Regions from separate parts of the Homo sapiens genome. Here region 1 is linked to region 2. Evidence: fine-mapped expression QTL. A gene starts in region 2. The other region holds a variant in brackets. All regions are shown on one strand. Distances are between the middles of the regions. Region 1 overlaps BMPR2 (bone morphogenetic protein receptor type 2). Region 2 holds the start of BMPR2 (bone morphogenetic protein receptor type 2).

Region 1 (10,798 bases), 120 kb before region 2:
GGGTCTAATTAGCCTCAGAGAAAAGAGGTGAGAGGAAGTTTGTCTGGCAGGCATTAGGACCCAGGGGGCAAGGGTCAGGATAGATACGATAGATGGGCAAGTCTCACTTGGGTGACATGCCTTTGAGAGTTCTGCCCATGGCCGCAGGGTCAACCAACTTGTTGTTGGGACCCCGGAGCTGCATGGCTTTCCTCTTTGTCGACCCTTGACTCAGTCCAGAAGTACAGGAAAAGCGGAAGCTGGTTCTAGGCAAACCAATGGTCCCAACTCCGAAGAGTCGGGGGTTGTTAGAGAGCCCTTTCCCAGAAAGCCTGACACCCGTGTCTTTACTCTGGCAGCTGCGCTAGTCACTTTTAACTGGCCAATAAGGTGCCCGGTATTTAGCCCCCGAATTCTAAGGAAAGACAGGACAGAATAGCAAGCGAAAGGGGTCCGATGGTACTCACTGCTTGCGGATAGGTGATGCTCTCACCGCTCAGCGATTGTCTCACCGCTTGGCAATGGGACTGGGCGCCGTGGAGCAGGGGGCGGCACTCATCGGGGAGGCTCGGGCCGCACAGGGGCCCATGGAGGGGGTGGGAGGCTCAGGCATGGCGGGCTGCAGGCCCGAGCCCTGCCCCGCGGGAAGGCAGCTAAGACCCGGTGAGAAATCAAGAGCAGTGCCGGTTGGCTGGCACTGCTGGGGGACCCAGTGCACCCCCCGCAGCCGCTGGCCCGGGTGCTAAGCCCCTCATTGCCTGGGGCCGGCAGGGCTGGCCGGCTGCTCCGAGTGCGGGGCCCGCCAAGCCCATGCCCACCCGGAACTCCAGCTGGCCCGCAAGCGTGGCACGCAGCCCTGGTTCCTGCTCGCGCCTCTCCCTCCACACCTCCCTGCAAGCTGAAGGAGTGGGCTCCGGCCTCGGCCAGCCCAGAAAGTGGCTCCCACAGTGCAGTGGTGGGCTGAAGGGCTCCTCAAGTGCTGCCAAAGTGGGAGCCCAGGCAGAGGAGGCGCTGAGAGCGAGCGAGGGCGGTAAGGACTGCCAGCACGCTGTCACCTCTCAGTAGTTCTGAACATTATTTTTTCCCCATAGGGTCAAAAGGCACCTAAGTATAAGATTGTAAGTGAAAAAATAAGGAACAGAAATGAGGTATTGGTGGTTTTTCCATTTTTATTTGCATGTGGATTTTCAATATAAATGTGGGACATAAAGCATTAATGCGGGTCAAAACATTTCAGTGAACAAGTTTTAGAAGTTCAACTTCATAACAATTATTTAATTTGTTCTTTTGATTTTTTTTTGTTTTTGTTTTTGAGACAGGGTCTCACTTTGTCGCTCAGGCTGGAGTGCAATGGTATGACCATGGCTCACTACAGCCTCAGCCTCCCAGGCTCAAGCGATCCTATCACCTCAGCCTCCCAAGCATCTGGTCTCATGCCACCATGTCTGGCTAATTTTTATTTTTTGTAGAGACAGGGTTTTGCCATGTTGCTCAGGATGGTCTCAAACTCCCGGGCTCAAGCAATCTGCCTGTCCTGGCCTCCCAAAGTGCTGGAATTACAAGCATAAACCACCATGCCTGGCCATAACAATTATAAATAAACCTGTTAAATTTTTCTGGATAATGCCTGCATTTGGATTTTTGGAAAATAAGTAAATTTCTTATTGACAGCAACTAAATGATGTTTGCAGCATTTTAATCATAGAGTAGGTTCCATCTGTTCACTCTACTTTTTTGAGTTGTCCTACATTCAAGCACGTTTTTAACGCTGTCTTTTTGCTGTTCCTGTTTGTTACTAAAATACATTAAACTATAAAATAAAAATAAGTGATCTTGTAAGTGACTTTTAAGGTCCTCCTACTTCCAAAACTCTGTATAATGAGTCTTCTCATACAGTTTTTTGAAGGCTCAGCATTCTTTGCTTTTATTCTCAAATTTATAAAAGAAAATTTAACAAAACTTTTACATTAAACATTCATTAATTCAAAATCTGAAATGGATTATTAATTCATATATTGGAGAGAATGAAAAAAGTTTTAAAACATTTTAAACATGTTATAGTGCTGGGAAGGGAACAGTGTGCCCTCCTTAAATGACACGGAAGTGGGGAGGTAAGTAATGGGTAGAGAAAGGTGCGTCCCTGACTAGGGCTCCACCCCAACAGACCTAGGTGAGGACAGGCACTCCTGCTTTCCCGTCCAAATGTTGCATTTCCAAGACCACCCGGACCCGCCATGTCCCCATCCTGGGCCTATAAAAACCCGAGACCCTAGCAGGCAGACACACAGGCGGCCAGACGTAAAGAGGAGCACATCGGCGGAAGAAAGTGGCTGGTCGTCGAGAGGAGCACGCCAGCAGAAGAGCACAACGATAGGCACCCGCACGCCGGCAGGCCGTCGACAGAACGACAACGACGCGGAGTTTGGCTGGGGCAGACGGAGGAGAGCCCTGGCCACCAAGCGGCCCAACTCCAGGAGAAAACCATCTCCCTTCTGGTTCCCCCATCTGCTGAGAGCTACTTCTACTAATAAACCTTGCACTCATTCTCCAAGCCCAGGTGTGAGCCGACTCTTCCCGTACACCAAGGCAGGAAACCCTGGGATACAGAAATCCCTCTGTCCTTGTGATAAGGAAGGGGGTCTAATTGAGCTAACACAAGCCGCCTATAGATGGCAAACTAAAAGAGCACCCTGTAACACACGCCCACTGCGGATTCAGGAGCTGTAAACATTCACTCCTAGACACTGTTGTGAGGTCGGAGCCCCACAGCCTACCTGTCTGTATGGTCCCCTAGAGGTCTGAGCAGCGGGGCACTTAAGAAGTGAGCCACACCCCGCATCACGCACCCTGTCAGGACAAGGGAACTTTTCCCATTTCATTATAAACCATATGATTGGTTAAATTTCAAATAAAAACTTTCCAAGCCTCTGTCACATGGTCTAAAAATATGAGATCCCTGAAAAACTGCCAGGAAAAATATTTCAATATGTGTATTCACGTGTACGTGCAAAAGAGGCCTTTAACTAGAAAACTCCTATTTTTTGTTGTCTATTTCTTCAAAATAAAAAAACCTTTTTACATAACATATGCTACATCTATGTTATACCTGAATTGTCTTGTTCTCCTACCTCTAATAAACCCTCTTTTTCTTCCCTATTAAGTTTTCTCAGTTAAATACTCAGCCAAATGTAAACACTACTATGTATGCCTGTGCAATAGTTGGGCTTATACAAGCAAACACTTCCTGAATGCAGAACAGACAGGGAACCTCTGTCTGTCTCATTGGAGCCTGGGATGTTTCTGTTTACAAATCCTGGAGCCAGGCGGGGGCCACTACTGGAGGCGTTCTGTCTGTTTCCTTGCTACACTCAGCTTTTGTCTGGGTCTGTGTCAAAGAAAGAACAACATTGTAACATGTGCAGCAAGCAGCAAAGGGAAGCTTAAATATAACACACTAGTGGTTATGTCAGCTCCTTAATCTTTTACCACTGTGTAGAAAGGCAAATTGGGGATTAGTTTTTGTAGTTTTCAAGCAATGTAGCTTTCATACAAGTAGAGAAAAACATTTAAATCCAAAACGATGTGATCAGTTAAGTGAATTCATTAGCAAAATAATCCAAATTGTTATGATATTGTTTCTGTACTATGATTTATTGTGGAGCTCAATGTTTTGAACAAATGTTTTTATAGGAAATAAACGTTGCTTTTAATTAATATGTTTGGAATGGCAGTAATCATAATCAGACTAATGTTTACATTTAATGCCCTAAAAAATTGAGAGGGGGCAGATTTCTTGTTTTTTCAAACAAGTAGTTAATACTGAATATGAAAGACTGGTTTAAATTTAACTTGTTAATCATTTTGAATAGATCTAGCTTGGAAGAAAAAGCAAAAAATAACAACAAAAAAAATAGCCCATACTTGGCTAATTGAATCAAGGCATTCGATGAGTGAATTATGAAAGAAACAGTGAAAAACTGAAGAAGAGAGAGAAATAACAGTCTAAAGTTAAATTCCACCCCCGCCAAAAGGTTAGAAAAGACATGAAAAAATGGGAAAAACATTCAGTGCCCCTCCTCCTTAACTTTTAGCTCCATAAGTATTTACAATTTTAATTTCTTTAGAGTGTATTTTAAATAGCTATTTTATGATTAGGAGAGACAATTTCAGCAATTTGTTTATTTTATTAAAGAATGAATTAAAACAGTTAATTATATTTGATTGGAATAAAATCATTAAATAAAAAATGGAAAGATCACATTTAAGTAAACAGACTAGGAATTTTAAAAATACAAGA[A/G]AAATAGAAGAATTAATTTGCAGACCATTGTACATCAAAACATTTCATCGAAGAATAAAGAAAACACCATTAAATATGCTCTCAAAGTATTTTTGGTATAATTCTACTTTAATTACCTCTATTGTACTAAGATTGTACTTTTTAGATATGATAGAACAGAGTCTGTTACTCTATACAACTTTAAAAAAAAAGTATTTAATGATTCTTAGAAAACACCAATAACCTAATTGAGTAAGAAATGTCCATTTAAGCCTAAAGTTACCACTAGAAAAATGGAAACCTAGTCACTATAATAGTCATTATTTAAAACAAAACAAATTAAAAATAAAATTCACAATACAGAAAATTCACGAGACTCACAATATAGAACTAAACCAAAGACTATGTCACTCAAAGATCCCTCGTCAATTTTCCTAACTGCTCTACAAAATGACAGTTCTAAATTCAGAATCCATACTCAAGAACTGTTTTCAGAAAATGACCATGAACTAATTTGACTATCAAAGTGAAAGCTGTATCTTCCAGTTATTTACTGATTGAACAACAAAATATGAATCACATCAGCAGGCAACTCCCTCAATTCATTTTATGTTATTTTAATTATCATAGTAACCTTTGCTCTCTTATAAGGAAAACAAGATAGATATTTGGAGAAAAACAAATAACTTTTTTTCCCCATTAAATTTCTCCTGGTCTGTTTCCTAGTTGTTTCCCTTGCTCTAGCTTTCCCACTTCGCACACTGATTTCCTTTTTGTTTTTTTTTTTGGTTTTTTTTTTTTTTTTTTTTTTTGAGACAGAGCTTCGCTATTGTCGCCCAGGCTAGAGTGCAATGGCGGGATCTCTGTTTACTGCAACCTCTGCCTCCTGGGTTCAAGTGATTCTCCTGCCTCAGCCTCCCAAGTAGCTGGGATTAGAGGTGCCTGCCACCACACCTGGCTAATTTTTGTACTTTTAGTAGAGAAGGGGTTTTGCTATGTTGGCCAGGCTGGTCTCGAACTCCTGGTCTCAAGTGATCTGCCTGCGTAGGCCTACCAAAGTGCTGGGATTACAAGCGTGAGTCACCACTTGTAACCGCCCATCCTGACTTCCATTTTTTAAACCTTACAAAATATAACCCACAAAATTATATACATTTTCGTGTATAATGTATAAGCATTATACACGAAAATGTTTATAATACAAAATGCAGAGCTTGGTGAATCATGATGAAGCAAACACTTATGTAACTAGCACCAAGGCCACAAAATACAACACCAAGGGTCCCAAAAGTCTCCTACCTGCTCCTACCTGTTCCTAACATCCTTCCTCTGCCCCAGAAATAGTCACTATTCTGACTTCTGTGGTAATCATTTCCTTGCTTTTCTTAATAGTATTACTATCACTGAATGCTGAGTTTTTTTGCCTATTTCTGAATTTTATATAAATGGAATTTTTGTGCCTTGCTTCTTCAGTTCAGTAATATGTTTTGAAGATTTAACCATGGTGTTTGTATGTAGCTGAAAATAATTCAGGGCTGTTTTTCTATGTAACAAATGTAGCTACTTTTCCTTGTAAGGAGCCTGGGGACTATAATGACAATAAAAAGAACATTGTGTGTAATTCCTTTTACATTCCACAAATGTATACATTTGATTTTTTAGTTATATTTAGGACTTTAATTTTGTTGCTAAGAGAAGAATTTTAAATGAAGCAGACAAATAGGCTGTACATCCTCTAGTTGTTTCTCTTTTGGCACTAGAGGCAGTAGTCAGCAATAAGGCAGGCCAGAGTTAGTAAAAGATGCACCTGGCCAGGCGTGGTGCCTCATGCCTGTAATTCCAGCACTTTGAGAGGCTGAGGCGGGTGGATCTCCTGACCTGACCAATATCATGAAACCTGGTCTCCGCTAAAAATACAAAAATTAGCTGGGTGTAGTGGTGGGTGCCTGTAATCCCAGCTACTCTGGAGGCTGAGACAAGAGAATTGCTTGAACCCGGGAGGCGGAGGTTGCAGTGAGCCGAGATCGTGCCACTGTACTTCAGCCTGGGGGACAGAGTGAAACTCCATCTCAAAAAAAAATAAAAAATAAAAAAAGAGACGTACTTAGGGAAGGAACAGAATAGACAGAAAAGCTTGGGAATAAAGAGGTAGGGTGGGCTCGGAGCAGTGGCTCATGACCGCAATCTCAGTACTTTGGGAGCCCAAGGCGGGAGGATCACTTAAGCCCAGCAGTTCAAGACCAGCCTAGACAACCTGCCAAGACCCCATCTCTACAAACAATTAAAAGATTAGCCGGGTGTAGTGGCGCATCTGTGTAGTCCCAGCTACTCAGCAGGCTGAGGTGGGAGGACTGCTTGAGCCCAGGAGTTCCAGACCAGCCTGGGCAACATGGCGAGACCCCATCTCTACCAAAAATACAAAAATTAGCCGGGCATAGTGGTGCATGCCTGTAATCCCAGCTACTCGGGTAGGAGAATCAATTGAACCTGGGAAGCTGAGGTTGCAGTGAGTCAAAATTGTGCCACTGCACTCCAGCCTGGGCAAGAAGAAGACTCTGTCTCCAAAAACAAAAAACAAAAAACAAAACAAAAAACAAAAACAAAAAAACATTGCTCAGATCCTACAAACCATACTCCTTATATAGTGAGAGTAAGGAAGTAACAATATCAAGGGCACTGATGACCCTAAGGGGAGTTTAGATTAATTGTTGCTGGTACTTGATCTCTAAAACAGACACTTCTTTTCCCTAATCCTACTCTTTACCCTTCCTATTCTTTTATGTTCTCTTCTTTCTCCCTGTACATATTTCTGTCTGCAAACCTGTCTCAGAGGCATTCACATGTCCTGCTTAGAAGCACTGGAGAAATTCTGGCATATGCAGGAAGTTCTATTTTTAATCCAACTCTATCTTGGTTTTAAAACAAAATAAAACAAAAACAGACAAAAGTAAAAGCTAGCAGAGTGAGAAAAGTATTTTTTATTTATATCATTGTGGGTACATTTTGGATGTCCATTCTTACATGCAAAGAACTTATTTTCATTTTCAAGGAAATGAATGTATACCATACACAAAAAATAAGTGGTACTAAATGTATAGGTTCCAATACATACTTGTGTGTGTGCATTTGTGTATATATACATATCTTTGAGTAGCTATATATTTAGTACAACCTCGTGTGTGTGTGTGTGTGTACATACCTTTTGACTTTAGAAGGTAACTCTCTTTACTTCCTAAAATTGTCACTTCCCTATAATGAAAATATATCCACCTTCTGCCACGGCCTCGTGATAGATGGAGTGTACCTCCTTGCCCCTTGACTTTGAATCTGGCCACATAACTTGATCAGACCAATGAGAAGCTGACAAATATAAGGCGAGCAGAAATCTAAAATATGCTTGGGTAGCTGCGTTTGCACTTCTTATGAGCAGGCAATCCACTATTGATAGAAGCTTGAGTAAATGTTGCCCCTTGATCGTGGGTCCCAGACAAAAAGATATGAATTGATCCTGAAGCCTGAAGCTGAGTCCTGCCTAGATCAGCCAAAATCCAGCTGTTCTACAAACCTATGATTATGAGAATAAATGCTTGTTGTTAAAGCCACTGAGCTTAGGGGTGGCTTGCTGATGAAGTATTATCAGCAACAGCTGACTGATATATTAGTATGCCTACTACTGCCCATGTAACATCTTACGTAGGTGTGTGTCAACATATAAAACTTTCAATTTTCTAAAAATTCTGTCCATGTTTTTCTCACAATTGTAGACAAAATTTTATCCAAACAAAGGAGTCTGTAAGTAATGCCCAGAATCCCACTACTAACTATAAAATGAATTTTTAACACTGTTAAAATTAATCATGTTTGTTTATTTAAAACACAGCACTTCAGTTGTTTTGTGGGGTAAGATATGTAATATTCCTAAAGATCAACATTTATTTACCACTTGTGAGATGTATAAACCTTAAACTACAACTTTAAATCTACTTCTATCTTCAGCACCTTCTTCTTAGTCCAATTATATTCTAACTTTCTCTCTAGGTTATATAGGAATTCCATCTATTGTGACTTAAATTAATCACCACTGTCTTTACTTTTATAATTGTCTTATTCCTTGCTTTTCGTTCCCTTAACTTTGTTTTTCTTTTTTCATATCTCCATTTACTTTAAAATCTGAAAAACAGTACACAAAATGGTACAAAAGAACAACAAAGGCCGGGCGTGGTGGCTCACGCCTGTAATCCCAGCACTTTGGGAAGCCAAGGAGGGTGGATCGCCTGATGTCAGGAGTTTGAGACCAGCCTGGTCAATATGGTGAAACCCCATCTCTACTTAAAATACAAAAAATTAGCTGGGTGTAATGGCAGCCACCTGTAATACCAGCTACTCGGGAGGCTGAGGCAGGAGAATCACTTGAACCCAGGAGGCAGAGGTTGCAGTGAGCTGAGATTGTGCCGTTGCATTCCAGCCTGGGCGACAAGAGCAAAACTCCACCTCAAAAAAAAAAAAAAAAAGTAACAAAAAGACAGATACCTTATGATTCCACTTATATGAGGTATCTCAAGTAGTAAAATTCATCAGACACAAAGTGGAATGGTAATTGCCAAGGGTTGGGAGCAGGGGAGATTGGTGAGTTGTTTAATGGGTATAGAGTTTCAGTTTTGCAAGACAAAAAGAGTTCTGGAGGTTGGTTACACAATAATGTGAATGTGCTTAATGCTACTAAACTGTGCACTTAAAAATTACTATGAGAGTAAATTTTATATTTTTAAAAATGGTTAAACTCTGTGCATGCTGGCTCACACCTGTAATTCTAGCACTTTGGGAGGCCGAGGCAGGAGGATTGCTTGAAGCCAGGAGCTTGAGACCATCCTGAGGAACACAGCAAGACCCTGTCTCTACAAAACATTAAAAAAAAGATTCTAGCTACTAGGGAGGCTGAAGTGGGAGGATCACTTGAGCCCAGGAGTTTGAGGCTGCTGTGAGCTATGATCATGCCACCGCACTCCAGCCTGGGAGACAGAGTGAGAACCTGACTCTGTTTTTTTGTTTTTTTGTTTAAAAAGGTTAAGACAGTAAATTTCACATTTTAAAAAACAGTCTAAGGGTGGTTCTCACCTTTTTCAAAAGATGTTTTATTTTTAAAATATTAAGAATATACATATAAACACCTGAACTCACACAATTTTCAGTATTTATAAAATGCTTTATAATACTGTCAGCACTTATGTCATAATATTGTAATTATTGGCATAATTACAATATTCCAATCTACCCATATTCCTTCCTGACATATTCACCTTTATACCCTCAACAGGAGTTCACGGATAGGGATAATAAAGAGAATGAGAAACAAAATCGTATTCACCTCTTTATTGCCAATATTTGAAAGTGGCTTGCATGCATAGTGTGTATTCAATACCTGTTGAATGAATGAATGGATACATGAATAAATACATGATGGGGAGCACTAATGACAAGATTATACTGGAAATAGGCTGGGCGCAGTGGCATGCGGAGGCTCACGCCTGCAATCCCAGCACTTTGGAAGGGTGAGGCATGCTAATCACCTGAGGTCAAAAGTTCAAGACCAGCCTGGCCAAAATAGCGAAACCCAATCTCTCCTAAAATTACAAAAATTGGCCGGGTGTTGGTGGTGCACCCCTATAGTAAAAAAATCTTGAGGGTGGGGCCAACAATCTGTTTTCAAGGGCCTCCAAACTGATACTGATTAATGCTAAAGTTTGAGGATCATTATTCAAGTGCTCTCAACAATTCTGCAATCATTTTAATAATTTGCTGTCCTTTCTTACATAAACTAGCTAGGTGGTATTTTCTTCGAGGAAACTGAACCCAGACCAGTTCAGAAAAATACAAAAAGTATAACTTGATTGTGGTGCAATACAGGCAAAGTAAACCCTTCAGAATAGAACACTTGACTTTATAGCAGTGTTCTGGCGTTTGCATTGATTTGTGATAGAGAAGCAGCCTCAAATATTATCCTCTACGTTTTTATCTTATTGATTTTTTAACTGTAATTCAAGTTTCATGGAAATCTGATCATTATTTATTAGTGATATAAAGACAAACTACTTACTATTCCAGGAAAATTATTATGTTCAAATTCTTGTTAGTATTAACTCTGATGTATGAATCTGATTCATTATACAGAATTCTCAATTTTCAGTCTACAAATTCATTAGAAGTGCCCAACCTGGGGTCTTCTTTAGCCATTAAGTTCCTAGATGACTATTATAAAACAGACTAAGTTACTTTCAGTGTTAGAAAAAAAAACCTCTTGAAAATCAAACTTATTTATGCATAATAAAGCTTCATAGGCTTACATATGCCAGGTGTCTTTGCTTAAGTAAAATTTTATTTTCAGAACATAATTAAAAAATAGTTTGCTATCATGCGGATAAAAAGCTCTATTAGGCAGGCATTTTTTTATTAATAAAAATGGGGAAATCAATTATAATAAGTATAATTTGTACAGCATAATTTCTTTCAAAATATAAGACCCATGAGAATACACAGCTCACTGTA
Region 2 (10,798 bases):
GCTCACACCTGTAATCCCAGCACTTTGGGAGGCCAGGGCAGGTGGATCACAAGATCAGGAGTTCGAGACCGGCCTGGCTAGCATAGTGAAACCCCATCTCTACTAAAAATACAAAAATTAACCAGGCATGATGGTGCACACCTATAATCCCAGCTACTCGGGAGGCTGAGGCAGGAGAATGGCTTGAACCTGGGAGGTGGAGGTTGTAATGAGTCGAGATCGTGCCACTCCACTCCAGGCTGTGTGACAGAGCAAGACTCCATCTCAAAAAAAAAAAAAAAAAAACAAAAACAAAAACTGATATCCAGCAGCACAGCAATCTATGAGTAGGTGCCAAAATAAGTGGTGTGGCCAATTATAAAATTAACTGATTCACACAGATTCCACTCAGTATTTTTTTAATGGTTAGAATTTACCCATTAGAGATCAATATTCAATTTCTTCTCTTTTTGTTAAAAAAAAAACTGGCCTTTAATGAAGGAAAGGTTTTGTCTTGTGTGAACAGTTATCTCTCACCTCACTACTCATCCACATCAATACCACTACTATCACATCATCCCACATGCCAGAATAGCTTTTGTAGAGACCAAAGTTTATATCATTTTAATGCAAAAAACTAATTAAGAGGTTGGCCCTCTTCAAAGGGTAAGAAAAGCCTCCCTTCTGGACCATCTTACTGGTTATATGTGGTCTACTGAGAATTTCAATTCTTCGTTCTTCTGCAATAGTACTATATATCCAAATATTACATTAGCCTCATCACAGGCAAAGTGTACTTTGATACCTCTTGTTTCTGAGCTTAGCCTAGCCATATGACTCGGTCAGCCAATGGGATGTTAGGAGAGCAGAGTCTGGAAATGTGCTGGTAGGGTTGGGCTTGGCCTCTTGCACTTCTGCCAATGCCATGACACAAGCCTCCCCCAGATAGATGTTACTTCTCCCTCTAGCCTGGACCCCAGAAAGAGACACATGGAGCAGAATAAATGCCTATTGTTGCATGCCACTAAGATTTTGTGGTTGCCAATAATTACACAGCAAAATGTCACTGAATCACCATATTTAAGAAATCCAGCCCAGGCGTGGTGGCTCATGCCTATAATCCCAGCACTTTCGGAGGCAGAGGCAGGCAGATCACGAGGTCAGGAGTTTGAGATCAGCCTGGCCAATATGGTAAAACCACGTCTCTACTAAAAATACAAAAATTAGCCGGGTGTGGTGGTGCACACCTGTAGTCCCAGCTACTTGGGAGGCTGAGGCAGAAGAATCACTTGAACCCGGGAGGCAGAGGTTGCAGTGAGCTGAGATGGCGCCACTGCACTCCAGTCTGGGTGACCGAGCCAGACTCTGTCTCAAAAAAAAAAAAAAAAAAAAAAAAAAAGAAAGAAAGAAATCCAGGGCCAGGGCCAGGGCCAGGGCCAGGGCCAGGGCCAGGCACAGTGGCCCACACCTATAATCCCAGCATTTTGGGAGGCCGAGGCGGGCAGATCACCTGAGATCAGGAGTTCAAGACCAGCCTGACCAACATGGAGAAACCCTGTCTCTACTAACAATACAAAATTAGCCAGGAGTGGTGGCACATGCCTGTAATCCCAGCTACCCGAGAGGCTGAGGCAGAATTGCTTGAACCCGGGAGGTGGAGGTTGCAGTGAGCCGAGATCACACCATTGCACTCCAGCCTGGGCAACAAGAGCAAAACTCAAAAAAAAAAAAAAAAAGAAAGAAATCCAAACAATCAGGACTGATGATATAAAGCAGTGCTTCTCAAGCACCTGCTTGAGTGAGACTTTGCGGGGGTTCTCCCAGAGAGATTCATTCAGTACATCTGGACTATAGGGCCAAAAATATGCATTTTTATCAAGAACCCCAGGTAATTCTGTTGCAGTACCCACACTTTGAGAAAAACTAAAATGAAGATTACTAAACTTCAGTTACTCAGTAATATTCACTAACATTAGATTAATCTTACTTTATATAATGTGTGTGTTCCTCAAGAGATGTATGTAAAATTGCAATCTAATCAAGTGAATTATTTAAAACGCATTACAGAAGTTGACCTTTAAATAATAGCTGTGTTGTATTCTTTTATTAAGAATTCATTCATAAACCAAGCCAGCACATCTTATTTTTCATAAGTTGTTTTTTTTTTTGGGGGGGGCATAGAAAATGTTCTAAGAATTAGGCGGGGTGTGGTGGCTCATGCCTGTAATCCCAGCACTTTGGGAGGCCGAGGCAGGTGGATCACGAGGTCAGGAGTTCGAAACCACCCTGCCAAAATGGTGAAACCCCGTCTCCACTAAAAATACAAAAAATAAAAATAAATTAGCTGGGCATGGTGGTGGGCTCCCGTAATCTCAGCTAGTCTGGAGGCTGAGGCAGGAGAACCACTTGCGCCTGGGAGGCGGAAGTTGTGGTGAGCCAGGGTCGTGCCACTGCACTCCAGCCTGGGCGACAGAGTGATACTCTGTCTGAACAAAAAAGAAAGAAAGAAAGAAAGAAAGAAAGAAAATGTTCTAAGAATTAAGGAGTCCAAGAACTCAATAAGTGAGAAAGAGGGAATCAAAAGAAATGATTTATCCATGACCCCGAAAAAGGATGTGCTATCAATCAGTCTTCTAGGATTTATTTTCCTGTTCAGCTGCACCATTTGCGCCTGTCGAGTTAACATCACTGCATCTGTGTAACCCAAATCCACACAGGCCCTCTCTAATCAGCTTGCACTTAATGAAGCTGCACTAGCCACTTCAATATTAGGCCAAGCAAAGTTTTACATGTTCAGAACTACGACATTTGCATAACCACTGCTGCACTAACACCTTGTAAGTGTCCCTGCTTCTTTACAAAGGTTGATCTGGTGAAGGCTAATTACTCCATCTCATATATCCAATAAGATGAGAAGTTGTTGCTGCTAGTGCTGCTGTTACCATTAATGTGGTATGTGAGGGCGCACACTATAATCCTGGCTCCATAATTTACTGACTGTGTGGTGAGTTATTCAAATTCTCTGTACTTTACTCTCCCTCTATGGAAAAGGGGAATGATAATAACCTACAACATAGAATTGTCATGAAGACGAAATGAAAAAATATATGTAAAGTTATTTGAATAGCTGATGGTGCATGGCAGGCACTTAATAAATACTAGCTATTATCATTACTGTTACAGGTCTGAAATCCAGCTTCACAAATTTTGTCATCTGGTGCTATGCAATACCAAAGAAAAAAAAGACTACAACCACTTTTAAGCAGTGATTCTTTTACTCTCTCCCTTTTAAGAGACACTATTCTAAGATGATTGTATTACCAAACAAAAATTAAGTTTATTTTTAAATAAATGCTTTTTCTCTTACTTTTATCAGTTCTGATCACAATATTATGAGCACGTCATCATAAATGAGAATCTATATTCTAAAAAGGTTAAGAATAACAAATAACATTGAAAAGCCTATGTTCTGAGATTTCTGCTCATGGAACGTTTAAGGCCTTTTACTCCATATTTTACAGGAACCACATGGCTTATGGCTAGAGAATTTAAATAGCTAACACAATATAAAGAAATTTAGAGAAAAATCATTTTTACTCTGAAAGCAACTACAATTATTAAAAATATTAAAATATCAGTTTTAAAGTAAACTCAGAAGTTCAAATTATTTTAACAGAACCATATAGATTTATCATCAATTTAACAGACATTAATCAACAGTAGACATTATTCAACAATAGCAAAAGCATAAAAGGAAACTTCAAATTTTCTTCGGCATTTTCCTAGATCAGACTTTCAAAATGAAAATAAGCAAGTAACCTCTGTATCTAACATAGCAATGAGAAATTTGTTTAATGTGAAACACACTTATCAAAAGAAAAAAAGTAATTCGAAAGGGTCATTTGGTCCTTTACTCGTTTTAAAAGCACAATCCATTTGCCCATCATAAACCAAGTGTACGAGTTATATGTAGAATTCACTCCTGAAAATTTCTAAAAGCAAATCACCAAAAGGCTGCTTGAAAAAATAGTTGCAAATAGAAGATAAGGTCTTTTTCCTAAGGTTTCTGAGAACTGAAATGAAAATATCCAAAGGAAAGGATGACTACCACCCTTTAGACTTTAGTGAAATGTCAAAGAACTTTCGGAGTCAAATCTCCTAGAAGTCTAATGTCAGGTCAAAGTTGTCTCGACAGCAAAGCCAATAGATAGATGCCAGATGACTAACAGTAAAGTTATCAAACCGTATAATACAATATATCAAGAATCTCACAGTTCTGGCTTCCTCAACATTTATTCTATTCATTCGGTAACATTTCTGAATAATGAAAGGAACATGGATTCCCAGAGTGATCTAAATTTCAAAATAAGGTTCAAGTGTGTGTTCTCTAGTTGATGTTCTTTTTACTATAAGCCAAAACCGCTTCTTTATAATAATAATTTTAAAAATCTACAGGTCTGTTTCCAGAGATCTCATAATAAGCACTGTTCACTGGTGATTAAAATATTATTTTTAATCGTTGCATTACCTCACAGCTAAAAATGTCAAGATACCACACCCAATATGTCTTTTTCACCCCGTAAAGGGGGGTGGGGTGGGAATATGGAAGTGGGGATAGGAAAATACACAAGAATATTAAAGGCGATTTCCCTGGAAGGCATGGGGCAGGCGCGCAGGCACCGGGTCGCAGCTCCGCTGCACCGCGATCGGGGGGACGCATGGCGAAGGGCAAGCACAGGCCTCGGCCTCTGCGGGCTCCCTCCCTCGCCACCCGCAGGGGCAGTGGCCGGGACGTGCCGGCCGGAGCTACTCACCAGCCGCAGTGCTGACCAGCAGGATGGTCCATGGTAGCCAGGGCACCCGCCAGGGCCGCTGCAGCGAGGAAGTCATCCCTGGGCCAGCCAAGAATCAGGAGGGCAAAGAAAAGAAATATGGGAAGTAGACCGGCGGAGAAACAGCCGGGAGGCTCGTCTTCTCTCCCGTGGACTGATCCTGCCCGTATCACAATACAGTTTGAAAGGACAAATGGCTGATGAGAGGACCTAGCTGCAGAGCTTTCATGCCGCTGCAGAAATTCCCTTCATTTCTCTCCCTCGCGGCTGGGGGGGTTCCTTCGCCTCGGACGGGGTGCCGCGGCCCTCCAAACGGAAGGCATGTCTGTGGGGAAAGCAGGGAGCCAAGAAGAAATCCCCCAAATTATTTCCCTCGTAGTTTCACGATATCAAAAAAATATCCAGGTCTGGGAGAAAACATATCCAGGGTGCGGAGGGCGGGGATTCGATCCGGGGTCGGGGGGCGAGGGTCAGAACTAGTTCCCGACTGCCGGGAAGGACGAAGCCGGACGGGCGGCGGCGGCGCCCGGCAGCCCTAGTCGCATCGCCCGCGGCTCCGGGAAGGCAGGATTCCTTAAGTTTCGCTTCGGTGCTTCCTTCACTCTGATTTCGAAAACAACAAATCCTCTTCCTTGACTGGATCAAAAAAGGTGCCTGCCTCCATGGACAAGCTCACAGTCCCCACGCCTTCGCAGAACAACCGTGAGAGGGTTGGGGAGGCCCTGGCGAAGGCTGAGGAGAGGTAGGAGCGGGGGAGGGGAGGGGTCGCGGTCGCGGCCCCGGTCCGGGCTCCCCGAGACGGCAGGCGGAGTGGGTGTGAGAGGCTGCCCCTTCTAGTCCTCCCGGCGGCGCTCCCTTCCCTTCCTCGCTTTTTATTCCTGCGGCTCGATCTTGCCTGAGGTAAATTCCACCAAGAAAGCCTCCTCTTCTCCCGTCAATGGCTCCTGTGAGCGAATCACAACCCCCCGAGGAAGCCGCTGCTGCTGCCGCCGCCGCCGCCGCCGCCGCCGCCGCCGCCGCCTCGTTCTCCCGCAGCTCTGGGCTCCTGACGGAACTCGGGCGTCGCGGACCGAGGGCGGGGGGCGGCGGGAGGGCGGATGAAGGTAGCCGGGGAAGGGGGTGGGCAGGGAGGCGGCGAGACACCCTGCGTCCCTCCGGGAGGCACTTCCAGTGGCTCCGAGCAGACCAGACACAAAGGGGGGAGTCGCCGCAGCTGCCAGTCTGCGGCGCTCCCGGTCACCGGAGTCGCCCCGCCTCCGCCGCCGCCTCCGCCTCCTCCTCAGTCTCCGGCTCTTCCCGGCCCTGTCTGTCTCTAGCCTGTGGTGCAGAGCGGGCGGCGGCGGCGGCGGCGCCGGCGGCGGGATGAAGCCCGCACTGCGCCTGCGCGCTCACGGCCCCGCCCGGCCCCGCCCCTCGTTCGGGGCTGGCTGAGGGCTCCGAGGCCCCACCGCAGCGCGTCTCTCCGGTGAATGGCCGAGGGCTGGGTGGGGCTGCGGTGGGCAGCGGTGGCCTTTCTCCTTCACACACATACACATGCCTTCCAAATGTGCATGGCTTGGGATTCGCGTATTTGTTTAAGAGACGACGGCCACATCCTTTTGTTCGGCGTTCAGCAGACTCCTCCGAGTTCCGGGATTTCTCCCGACTGAGGCGTCTCCGTCTCAGTACTCTCGGAGGAAAGCCTCGAGGGGCAGAACTGCCCTCTGTTGTTTCACGGGGCTGGAACCTCCCTCTCCGCAGCCCAAAGAATCCGGATGGACCCGCCTTTCCCAGAACCGGAGACCTTGGCCTCCTCAGGCTCCCCTCTGACTCAAACAAAAGCCGGAATTGGAAAGACCACCCCTTTGATGTGTTCGCTGTAATCGACGTCCTGCTTTCCTCAACCGCCCATTCCCTTAGCCTTCTTAGTTGACAGGAATATTGAGTATTTGCAAGGATGCGAAGCCAGAAAAAAAAAAAAGACTTTTAATTCTATAAATCGTCCCGCTGCGTGCGCGCGTCTGTCCGTACAGCGCGGTGCCCACCCCGAGAGAGGGCCTGGATTCACCAAGGCTGGGGGCCTTGAGGGCTTTTTAGGGCACGTGAAAGGAAAATGGAGTTAGAGTTGTGTCGGGATAGAGAGTGGGATCATTTTGCACTCAAGGAATTGAGAAGATCCCGTTGGTACCGCAGTTTCCAAGGATTTGTGTAGTGCGTTTTTTGGATCTGGTTTGTACAAGCGACCAGTATAGGAGACGGGATCCCTCCCGCCCTTACACCCCGCTGCGGGGTCAGCCGACGTGGGTGGGATTTTGCTGGCGGCGAGGGGAGAAGGTGACGTGCGTGGCGCCATGATCGGAAGTCTGGACTGAATTCTTAGCTGCGAGGTGGAAAATGCGCGTGGGAGGGCGATCTTGAGGGGTGAAGTCTGGCCTTCCCATCTCCTACCAGGCAGGAGGGTTATGCTGAAGGCTGGTTTTGCTGGTCTTTCATTGTGGCTAAGGGCAGTTCCACAGATACAGTCATAGATAGACTCCTTAAGTCATGCTCTGCTTGCTTCTTCTAGTCCGCTGTTACCTCTTTATCTGAATTTGATGTAAATAAATCTCCACATTCCTTAAACTGGTTCTGTTATACTAAACATCTTCCATAATTAGGGGTTGTAGCAATACCAACCCCGGATTCTAAGACTCTTTTTAGTTGAAATATGTTTATGCTGTTTACCCTTTAGACAGAGAAAAAAAAATTCTACCTAGTAAAATCCCTTAAAAAGACGAAGAGCATATGCTTTGATTCATTAGCTTTATTTATTTAGGTTTTATTTATTTATTTATTTATTTATTGAGGCGGAGTCTTGCTCTGTCGACCAGGCTGCGGTGCAGTGGCGCGATCTCGACTCACTGCAACCTCCACCTCCCAGGTTCAAGCAATTCTCCGGCCTGAACCTCCCGAGTAGCTGAGATTACAGGCGGCGCCATCACGCCCGGCTAATTTTTGTATTTTTAGTGGAGACAGGGTTTCACCATGTTTGCCAGGCTGGTCTCGAACTCCTGACCTCACGTGATCCGCCCGTCTCGACCTCCCAAAGTGCTGGGATTACAGACGTGAGCCACCGCCCCCGACCGATTCTTTATAGCTTTATTACTGTATTTTGTTTTGCCCAAAAGGTCTAAATTAGAAACGGTATTGTTTTACCATTTGTCTTTCAAGAACTGAGAGTTTCTAGCACTCAGAGAAATTGGATTTTAGTATGTTAGAGGTGCAGAAAGTTTAAAGTTTATTAATTCGTAGTACACTTTTATCTTCCTCAAATTGAGATCAAGTACTTCATCATTCAATTTTTATTTGCTTAAGATTTTTTCCAAGAAACATTAAGTGTCCTTTTTGTAGTTCCCCCTTATCCACCGTTTCAGTTACCTGCAGTCAACCACGGTCTGAAAATATTACATGGAAAGTTCCAGAAATAATAAGTGGTGTTTTTTTTTGTTGTTGTTGTTTTTGTTTTTTTTGAGACGTAGTTTCTCTTTTGTTGCCCAAGCTGGAGCACAATGGCACGATCTCAGCTCACAGCAACCTCCGCCTCCCAGACTCAAGCGATTCTCCTGCCTCAGCCCCCTGAGTAGCTGGGATTACAGGCATGCGCCACCACACCCGGCTAGTTTTGTATTTTTAGTAGAGATGGAGTTTCACCATGTTGGTCAGCCTGGTCTCGAACTCCTGACCTCAGGTGATCCGCCCTTCTGGCCTCCCAAAATGATAGGATTAGAGGCGTGAGCCACTGCGCCTGGCCTCATAAATTTTAAATTGAGTACTGTTACTAACTAGCTGTGAGGAAATCGCTGCCATCCCACACTGTCCTTCTGGGATGTGAATCATGGTTTGTACAGTGTATCCGCTATAACCTCCTTAATCACTTAGTAGCAGTCTCTTATCAGACTGACTGTGGCAGTATGCAATATCCAAGTGCTTGTGTTCAACTAACCCTCGTTTTACTTAATAATGGCCCCAAAGCACAAGAGTAGTGATGCTGGCAATTCAGCCATACAGAAGCTGTAAAGTGCTTCCTGTAAGTTAAAACGTCAGAGTTCTTGCCTGTAATCTCAGCACTTTGGGAGGCCGAGGCAGGCAGATCACAAGGTCAGGATGATCGAGACCATCCTGGCTAACACGGTGAAACCCTGTCTCTACTGAAAATACAAAAAAATTAGCCAGGCGTGGTGGCAGGCGCCTGTAGTCCCAGCCACTCGGGAGGCTGAGGCAGTGAATGAATGGCATGAACCCGGGAGGTGGGGCTTGCAGTGAGCCGAGATCATGCCACTGGACTCCAGCCTGGGCGACAGAGCAAGACTCTGTCTCAAAAAAAAAAAAAAAAAAAAAAAAAAAAAAAAAAAAAAAGTCAGAGTTCTTGACTTAATAAGGAGGGAAAAAAATTATAGGCTGAGGTTGCTAAGATTGCTGGTAACAATGAATCTTTGGCAGGGTGCAGTGGCTCACGTCTGTAATCCCAGCACTTTGGGGGACCAAGGCAGGAGGATCACTTGAGGTCAAGAGTTCAAGACCTGCCTGGCCAACATGGTGAAACCCCGTCTATACCAAAAATACAAAAATTAGCTGGGAGTGGTGGCACGTGCCTGTAATCCCAGCAGCTACTCCGGAGGCTGAAGCAAGAGAATCACTTGAACGCAGGAGGTGGAGGTTGCCCATTGCACTCTAGCCCGGGCGATAGAGACTCTGGCAAAAAAAAAAAAAAAAATCTATCTGTGAAACTGAATTGTGAAGAAAAAATAAATTCATGCTAGTTTTGCTGCCATACCTCAAACTGCAAAAGTGATGGCCACAATGTGTAATAAGTGCTTAGTTAAGATGGAAAAGGCATTAAATTTGTGGGTAGAAGACATAATAGAAATGTATTCCAGTTTATAGCAATTGGGTTCAGTACTGTCTGCAGTTTCAGGCATCCACTGGAGGTCTTGGAACAAGTTCCTTGTGGATAAGGGGCAGGGAGGACTACCGTACATGTTATAAATGTATGATAAATTATATAGAACATAAAGAAAAGGTCTTAGGAAATTCACAAGAAAAAACACATGCCGCTGACTTGGTAGGTAGACAACTAGATATGTACCCTCTTCCCTTTTCTGTTCCTTCTTGTGATATTTCAGTTGGGACATGGCTGTTCACTCACAGTGAGAAAGAACATCAAAGAACAGAATTAAGACTTGGCAAGAAACCTGTCCACGACAAAAGGCAGACAATGTAAGTCAAGCTCAGCTGAGAACAAAGGACTGGTGATGCAGGTGAGGTTTGGCATCTGTACTAATTAGGATGGGCTAAATTACAGTAACATTCACCAAATCTCAGCATCTTATTGCAATAAAGGTTTATTTCTCACACATGTTACATGTTTGATATAAGTCATCAGGGGACCCATCGCAACTTGAGTTCACAGGAAATAGACACTGAAACTCTGAAATTTGTATGCAGGAGGTTATTACCTAATGATGGCAAGAGCAACCTCTGTGGGGATTGAGGGATGCAAGACTGGGCAGAGGGAGAAGTTGAATTGCAACACATTTGCAACTGAGGCATCAATCAATCCTGCAGGAATTCTGGAGCTGGGCTGGCCTTTCAGCATTGTCCTAATCTGTGTCTGCTAACACTTTAAGGTACACCTAAAAGACCCCCCAAACCCAGCAAGCTTTTCATTCAAGATTCCTTCAGTGGAGTACATCTAGGGAAAAAGTCCCTCAAGTATACTGATAATTTAGGCTCCTTGAATGCTGCCTTGGAGTAGGAAATCCAGCATTAGACAGACTGCCTAGCCAAGTTGGGTAAAACCAGTAAATTTTTTTTTTTTTTTAAAGACGGAGTTTCGCTCTTGTAGCCCAGGCTGGAGTGCATTGGCACGATCTTGGCTCACTGCAACCTCCGCCTCCCGCGTTCAAGCAATTCTCCTGCCTTAGCCTCCCAAGTAGCTGGGATTACAGGCTTGTGCCACCATGCCCGGC

Evidence for each region. PIP is the estimated chance that this variant, and not a neighbour inherited with it, causes the effect.
Region 1: its variant is the best candidate, but not a certain one, in a credible set for the expression of BMPR2 in whole blood (TOPMed, PIP 0.54).

What each region holds. Positions count from the first base shown.
Region 1 is chr2:202,486,970-202,497,767 of GRCh38, reverse strand. All of the region lies in intron 3 of BMPR2 (bone morphogenetic protein receptor type 2), which reads right to left. Among named protein-coding and RNA genes, the nearest start is that of BMPR2, 120 kb to the right of the region's middle. The variant A/G (reference allele first, on the strand shown) is at 4,277.
Region 2 is chr2:202,371,546-202,382,343 of GRCh38, reverse strand. It overlaps BMPR2 (bone morphogenetic protein receptor type 2), which reads right to left and starts at 6,017. Exons shown (of 13, transcript NM_001204.7): 1 at 4,794-6,017. The coding sequence starts at 4,869. RefSeq lists enhancers at 4,600-4,669, 4,672-5,455, 6,610-6,899, 7,010-7,169 and silencers at 5,510-5,569, 5,640-5,699, 5,830-6,319, 6,470-6,519.